Homo sapiens: one gene and its partner. The protein of the gene in region 1 interacts with the protein of each later gene in a pairwise test. Each region holds a gene or a part of one and is shown in the gene's direction. Other genes may lie near its edges. The genes, in order: DKK2 and LRP6.

The links.
Region 2: the proteins of DKK2 (region 1) and LRP6 interact in binary tests that used the Homo sapiens proteins (3 or more experiments, as listed by UniProt).

What each region holds. Positions count from the first base shown.
Region 1 is NC_000004.12:107,029,786-107,033,616, reverse strand, and holds part of DKK2 (dickkopf-related protein 2 precursor), read left to right. Parts: intron 1-3,831. UniProt on the Homo sapiens protein: Antagonizes canonical Wnt signaling by inhibiting LRP5/6 interaction with Wnt and by forming a ternary complex with the transmembrane protein KREMEN that promotes internalization of LRP5/6.
Region 2 is NC_000012.12:12,179,720-12,183,550, reverse strand, and holds part of LRP6 (low-density lipoprotein receptor-related protein 6 isoform b precursor), read left to right. Parts: intron 1-2,111; coding exon 2,112-2,508; intron 2,509-3,569; coding exon 3,570-3,741; intron 3,742-3,831. UniProt on the Homo sapiens protein: Component of the Wnt-Fzd-LRP5-LRP6 complex that triggers beta-catenin signaling through inducing aggregation of receptor-ligand complexes into ribosome-sized signalosomes.

The sequences.
Region 1 (3,831 bases):
TTTGTAAAGCGCTTTTTGTTTCTGTTCCACTATTGGGCCAACATACCTGATGTTCCTCTGTCAGAAAATCAGTTACATGCGTCGTTTCATTAGCCTTAGCGTTACACAGGGGAGACTGAGGGATGCATCCCAGAACCTAGCTTCTTCTTTATGTTTTAATACTGTATCTGTATATAAATCGGTATAAAATATGTTTTTGTGGTGCTACCTCTCCAAATAGCTACTTAATTATGCTTCTTAAAGAGTTTGGAAGTCTACTTACATCGCCTTAAATTGAGAATTTATTTATTTATTTCACAAATGAGTTGAATTTCTTATATGCCTTTCATAACATAGCAGTTCTATGGAATATATTTTATTATATTTACTTAACTGGAATCCTAGATTGTTAAAATTTGACATTAGGCTTGTGAAAAAAATTGTTAACATATTCAAGATGAAGGTAAAACAAAATAAAATACTGGGTTGAATAGCAGGAGGCTAGCTGGCAAATGTGAAAATTTTATTTTGTGTATTCTTCTTTAACGAATGATCTAAAGTATGTACTGTTATGAAGAAACAAATAGTAAAATATTTTCTCTTTGAAGTGAAAAGAATAATTCTTTGGATACTTATGAGTCTCTTTATCTTTTTTATTCTATAGTTATGTGGTCACCAACATTCTTAGTATTATTATTTTCAGAAATGAAATGGAAATTAGAAAGGCTATTACAGGGAAGATGTTATTTCCTTTTGTAGAGAAAAACTCTAGAATAGAAAGGTAGCTGAGCTGAATTTTTATGCATCACAATAGTAAATATGATTGAAAATATTGGAATTAATGTGTCAACTAATCAAATTAGCTAATCATGTAGTATCATCCTAAGACCTAATAAGTTTTATTTCCCCCAATTCCCTTTATACTTGACAGATGATGTTGAAATATATTCCTTTCAGGGATACAGGAGGAAGAAGCTCTAGGATGCAGCTTCAAGTAGGCAGATTGGAAACTCAGTCCTTGGTGTTCTTTCTCTTAAATGGATGTTGAAAATAGCCTATTTTAATTTTTCAGGATAGAGAATTAAATATTGCCACTGCAGAAGAAATTCTTGAATAAATTTAGTAATTCGTTAATCTACAAAAGTGAAAATGAGACTATATGAGCTCTATAGTTTTATTGAAAGTTGCCTGATTTCATATAAAGATAAACATTCTTATTTACAGGAATTCTACTTGTTCCATAGGCAAGGTGGATTATTTGTAATATCACTTCTAGAAAATGTGGCTTTGAATTTTAGAAAAAATTTAGAGAGAGAAAATCCACTGTTCTCCAGAGGTGTTACATTTCTCAATTTAAGGTTGGCTTTCAAAAACACAGTATGAGTTATAATGGAAACTGACATAGGAAATTGAGAGTGATAGTATTCAGATGATTGATACAGAATTAGCAAAAAATGAACTGCTGAATTATTCGCATCAATGTTTTAATTTGCCTTTTCATTTGCAGCTATTGCTAATAAGTACTGCATGTATGTGCTGTATATGTATACAGGCTAAATTAAGTTTCAGACTGTTACTAGTATATTTACATAATATATAAATATTTATGCATTTTAATATATATGTCAATTTCTAAGGATACTGTTTCAGATGTTCTAAATTAAAAGTAATTTCAAACAAAATCTTCAATATCATGTGAATAAATATATTTTGATGAAGTATGCCATTTCTCGATACTATCTCTAAAGTTTGAGGTGTTGACTTTTATGGACCACCTTCAAAACAAATTTTAAAAACCCAAACTACTAAAAAAATCAAGCTTTGCAATTCACATATTTTTCTGTGTGAATGAAAAACCTTTGGATTTGTGTTTGTAATTGCTTATTTTATTCTTCTCGTTTTGTCTTTCTGAGACGGGCAGATGAATTTAATTTGAATGCAATGCAGTAGCATTTTGCAATTCTTTTAAAAGTGACTAGAATAGTGATATTTATAGTTATATTTTAAATGTAGATAAACTTTCTGGCATGTGTTTCTAAAAAGAAGCTATGGTTTAACACAAATTCAGATTCTATGATTTTCTGATATGACTGGGACACTTCAAGGATAGTGGTTTGGATGAAGTTATGTTGTGAGAAAAGAATTCTTGAAATTCATTGAAAGAGAAGCTTGAACGAGTTGACTAAAGAGCACTAATATTTGTAGACTGCATTTTCTTTAATGAAAGTGTGCTGTATCTGTATGCACAAACATTCATGAAAGTGCTCACTGAAATAAACTATATACTCTAATATTCGGTAAGGGATCTCTTTACTTTCTGAAATTATCCATGACTTTTTTTTCTAACCTCAGCCCAACTTTCTCCTGCTTAGGAGTAAATAATCTGATAGCCTCTCTGGACATTGACTAACACTAAACACAATCAGGAAAGCAAATCATTTTTACGATTAAATTTTAAAAAATAAAGGAATTTGAAATAATCTACATTAACGTTCCTTTCCTCTCACCATGAATTATAGAAAATTGATAGTTGATACAAGTGGAAAGTTAGTTCTTGAATAGCAAGAAAAGTATTTTAATGATAATCTAATATGAACATCCATCATTTTATTTTTGTGTTAGACTAGAGAGCGCAAGAGGACAAAGTTGCTCAAACTTACTCCAGCTGTGACTCTGACCCTGTCATAATCTTCTTGAATATTCTTCTACAATACAAACTTTTGCACCCTCTTCTCCTTTCCAAGATATTTTGAAACTTATAATTTTAAGATTAGGTAAGGCAATGTCATAGAACTATAGCTAGTATATTCTGATCTAGGAAAATATTGGCTCTTCTTCATTTCCTTACAAAATTGCTTTAAATGTACATTAAAATAATCGGTTACATTTTAGAAGAAATTTATAATAGTTAACATATTTACCATTTTAGACTCAGTCTCTAATGGCTGTTTATTCTTTAGTATTGAATTAACAGCAAAATCAATTACAATCAAATTTCTACCTGTGACTTTCTGACGGCCTGTTGGAGTTGTTTTACTTCCTTATGCCTCTAGTCACTTGTGCTCACTTATAACAAGGAGATAAACCCGTTTTTAGTTATTTATCTGATTGTTCAAAAGGTTTATGTGATATTTGTGTCTGCCTGAGCCCCTTACTACGTCCTTTTTTTAACAGTCCAAAAGCATAAACCAAAAGGAAGTAAGGCTAATCATAATTGATAGACATATTGCATTATGTAGCATCGCTTTAAGATTACACAGAAAGATTTAATATAGAATGCATAAGAAAAATTTAGTATTACTATTTAAGGTAAGCAAAGGTCAATTTTCTGTTCCTCCTCTGTCCACTCTTGACAGGAACTAGAGCAGAATAACATATTTTTCTCTAATTGTAGTGTTAGGACAAACATAAAGCATTCTTTCAAAGAAGTCAGTCGATACAGCATTTGGTAGGTTCTTTTCTTTGTAATGGCAAATTTAATCAAAGAAAACTTTAAAGCAGAAAGATTGCAATATCCTGTTAAATTTTTTTTAATAGAAGTAATTAGTTTATGTATCACTAACAACAGAATTGCTACTCTAACATGTATTCCACAACCCCTGAATCTGCACAACAGATTATATTTTGGGAACCTGAATAATAGTTTAGATTTTTCTATGTGCTTTAAATATAAATTCAGAAATAAAATCAGCAAAAATACAAAAGTAGTCAATTTTTAAAAAAATGTTACTTATCTTTTTCCACAGAGTCAAAAGGGACAAATGGACATCAGATATCCTTTTAAATACTTTGCAGTATCTAATTTAAAACAAAATAATCTAGAGCAAAAAAAGAACAAATCTACAATTTTAA
Region 2 (3,831 bases), on another chromosome or scaffold:
TGTTTTAAATTGCTTTTTAACAACAGAGAGATGCTTTCAGAGCTGGGAAAAAAAATCCATATTTAAAACAACTTCTTTTTATACTTAAGAAACACACTTTGCCTGTTCTCCTTACTCTTAATTCCCTATAGAGAGAGGGCACGTTGGAGAAAGTATACTGATTTAGGACATTTTAAGGGACTTCCAGTTTGGAAGAACACCAGTTCTTCTGTTTTTCTTCTTAATGAGAATGTTATTCTTCATTCTCACCCCTATGGATCACCATCTGGTTCTCTAGCAACCAGCAAGACCTGGTAAGAAAATTGTTGTATTTAGCTGTGGCTTCTTTATCTAACTCTGAAAAGCAGAAGCCTGTGTTTTGGAGTGTGTTAGAGTCCCTGGCAAGGGGGCCAGGGAGTCAGAGAGATGGAATTGAGTCTGTGTACAGGATGTTTGTTATGACTTGGCATTGATAAATTATCCTCATAGTAAAAGGTGAAGCTGGCTGACTCTTGGTCAAATGGTTTCCATGGCAGACAGCAATTTGGTTTCAATTTAAAACAAAAGGTTTTTGTAATGTTGCTTTTTTCTTTAAAAATGTAGCCTGACTTTAAAACAGAGGATTTATTTTAGCAATAATGGTCTATCTGCTCCCTCACAGCAGTGCAAGTGTACATATTTAACCAGTTTTGAATTTCATGTGTGCATTTGGCATGTAGTAGCCTTAAGTTAACTGTTCTGTTTTGATCACCTTGCTCAAATTAACAGCTCTATGACTTCTTTGTGAAGTTCTAGGCTGGCTCCTTTTGGTTGTTAGCCGGGGCAGTGAATTGTACAAAGTTATTCCTACTTGGTTCCTGCAGTGGCATTTGGGCTGTATTTTCTTCAAGTTGGAATTCATTTATAATTAGCTCTAGAGTGAAAGGGCTGATATTGAGAGGCTTCACTCCTCTTCTCAGTTTTTTGACTTGTAATTGCAGATTGATTCTTGAAGTTTATATGCCAGTATTTTGTTTTGGACTCATTTATTTAGCTGGGAATCTTTTCTTATTCTTTCAGTTGTCAATTTGCTTACTGTCTTTTATTAGCTTCCTATAGTTAGACGATTTTTTGCTGGTGGTTTACTTGAACAATTTAAAATGAAAAAAAGATTGAGCTCAGTATCTTCATTCTTGGTTATGTGGTTAAGTATTTGGGGCTTGGGCTTTAAACAGTTCATAAATAAACCTAATTTAAAATTCAGTGAAATAAAAATCTGAAAATCTTTATTTTTTAATACTGTTGTTAAGTATTAGTTAATATTTCTTGAGTACTTAAATGTTCAGTACTTTCCTGAGTTTTAGATTTATCTCCTTTAATCCTTACAACAACCTTACAAGGTATAGATGGGGAAACTAGGCTTAGCGAGATTAGATATTTTCCCAAAGTTTGTGTAGCTTCTTGAATCAAATTATATTGGATCCACAACTCTTAACCACTGTGTTATGTTTATCTGGTTCCTTCCCTCCATTGCAGCTGTTTGTTTCTCCATAGCTTGCTTTGTCCTCAATTCTGTGAGGTATTGCCCTGTATTTCTCTTTGTTAAGACAGTTTTACTGAGATGTAACTTACATAGCATATAAAATCCATCCATTTTTTAAATTGTACAATTCGGTGACTTTTTAGTAAATTTACAGAGTTACGCAGTTATCACCACAATCCAATTTTAGAACATTCCTATCAAGCACAAAGATTCTTGTCCTAAATTTCTTTATCTTTTTTTAAAAAATGCTTCTTGAACAAAGGATCTATATCCTACATTTCCTTCTCCTTTAATACTGAGCTACTTAGCTTCTTAGTCATTACATAGTCATTATTCATTGTACTTTTAAATAGCTGGATTAATTCCAATGAAACCATAGAATGTATCACAACTTAATTTGGAGAGTTAGCCATTAAACAGCTTGACCTCAGAGTAGACTCTTCTATTTCACTGTATTACTTTCCATTTCCACTCTAAAGAGAGTGCACATCCTTTTGTGTTAATTTATGTATATTTTATATTTATTTTTCAGTTCTTGATTCTTTATCTAGAGCAGGTAAATTTTACCTCTGGGTTTCAAAGTATTCTTCATTTCACTTTGTTGTTCTAGGTGCCACAGAATTATTGCTTTTAGCTCGAAGGACAGACTTGAGACGCATTTCTTTGGATACACCAGATTTTACAGACATTGTTCTGCAGTTAGAAGACATCCGTCATGCCATTGCCATAGATTACGATCCTGTGGAAGGCTACATCTACTGGACTGATGATGAAGTGAGGGCCATACGCCGTTCATTTATAGATGGATCTGGCAGTCAGTTTGTGGTCACTGCTCAAATTGCCCATCCTGATGGTATTGCTGTGGACTGGGTTGCACGAAATCTTTATTGGACAGACACTGGCACTGATCGAATAGAAGTGACAAGGCTCAATGGGACCATGAGGAAGATCTTGATTTCAGAGGACTTAGAGGAACCCCGGGCTATTGTGTTAGATCCCATGGTTGGGTAAGAAGCTCTACTGATAGTAAATTCTGTGTGGTGTTTCTGTTTTTCACAGGTTCCTGAAAACATTGACTAAGATAACATGACATATATATTGGTTTCCAGTAAACAGCTCTTTAATGGCTGTCTATTTTAGGATATGGTGATTAGAATACAATCTCAAGTTTAAAAATTGCTAGTTTTTTGCCTTGGATGTCTTAGATATTTTTTCTTTCTAAATTAAGTCCATGTTTGCTGACTTTGGGTGTTGTCTGCAGATTTTGCTCGGATTGCATCATTACCATGAAAAATGTGGGAAGAAATTGTTTTCAGAACTCTTTCCCTTCCCCTAGAAGCTTTAATTCCATTTTCAGTACTTTATAGTAAGAATATAGCTTACTTTTTTTTCCCTAAATACATGAATGACTTGATTTCCAAAACTTTGCCAGCCCATGCAGCTTTACTTCTAGTTTGTTGTTGTTGTTTGTTTTGTTTTGCCATGCCACCCTGATCATAGTCCAGGGAAGTACAACTTTTTACATACTCAACAATTTTGTTACTTTGAGATTTATTCTGAGGACAAGCATAGTGACAAATTACACCTCAGTATATACCAATGCCTTAGAGCCATCTAAACATCCAGGAGCCGTAAGAATCACTTAGCACTGCAGGAAGAAATAGTTATTTTGAGAATTCAGTTTGCCATCTGACTAATACTGCTGGGATAAGCCTTTTGTGTCAGAGAGATGACAAGCCATCAAGGAAAAGAGAGAGAAAGTTCATGGAAAAGGGCACACAAAATATTTAAAAAAAAAAAAAAAAAAAAGAAGTAAAACTGTAATCTCATTATTGGGAGGCATTTTCAGGATTGGCTCTAGAACACACTGATCTGAAAATTTCCCACAATCTTATATATTGCTGGGATAAATGTCTTAAACACCTCTTCATATGTTTTTTTTTTTTTCCCCTTCCTTGGCATTAACTGATGATACCAGTGTAATAGGAGGGATGGATCTCACCTTTAGAATATCTGAAAGTTACATTTTATTATCTATTTTTAGCTCATTTTTTGTATACTTCTCTAGGTACATGTATTGGACTGACTGGGGAGAAATTCCGAAAATTGAGCGAGCAGCTCTGGATGGTTCTGACCGTGTAGTATTGGTTAACACTTCTCTTGGTTGGCCAAATGGTTTAGCCTTGGATTATGATGAAGGCAAAATATACTGGGGAGATGCCAAAACAGACAAGATTGAGGTTTGTTTTTTGCTTTTTCATTTTCAAGCCACTTTTATAATGGGTTTTGAGTCGACAGTATAATGATTTGAGTACAGATATTCTTTTTTC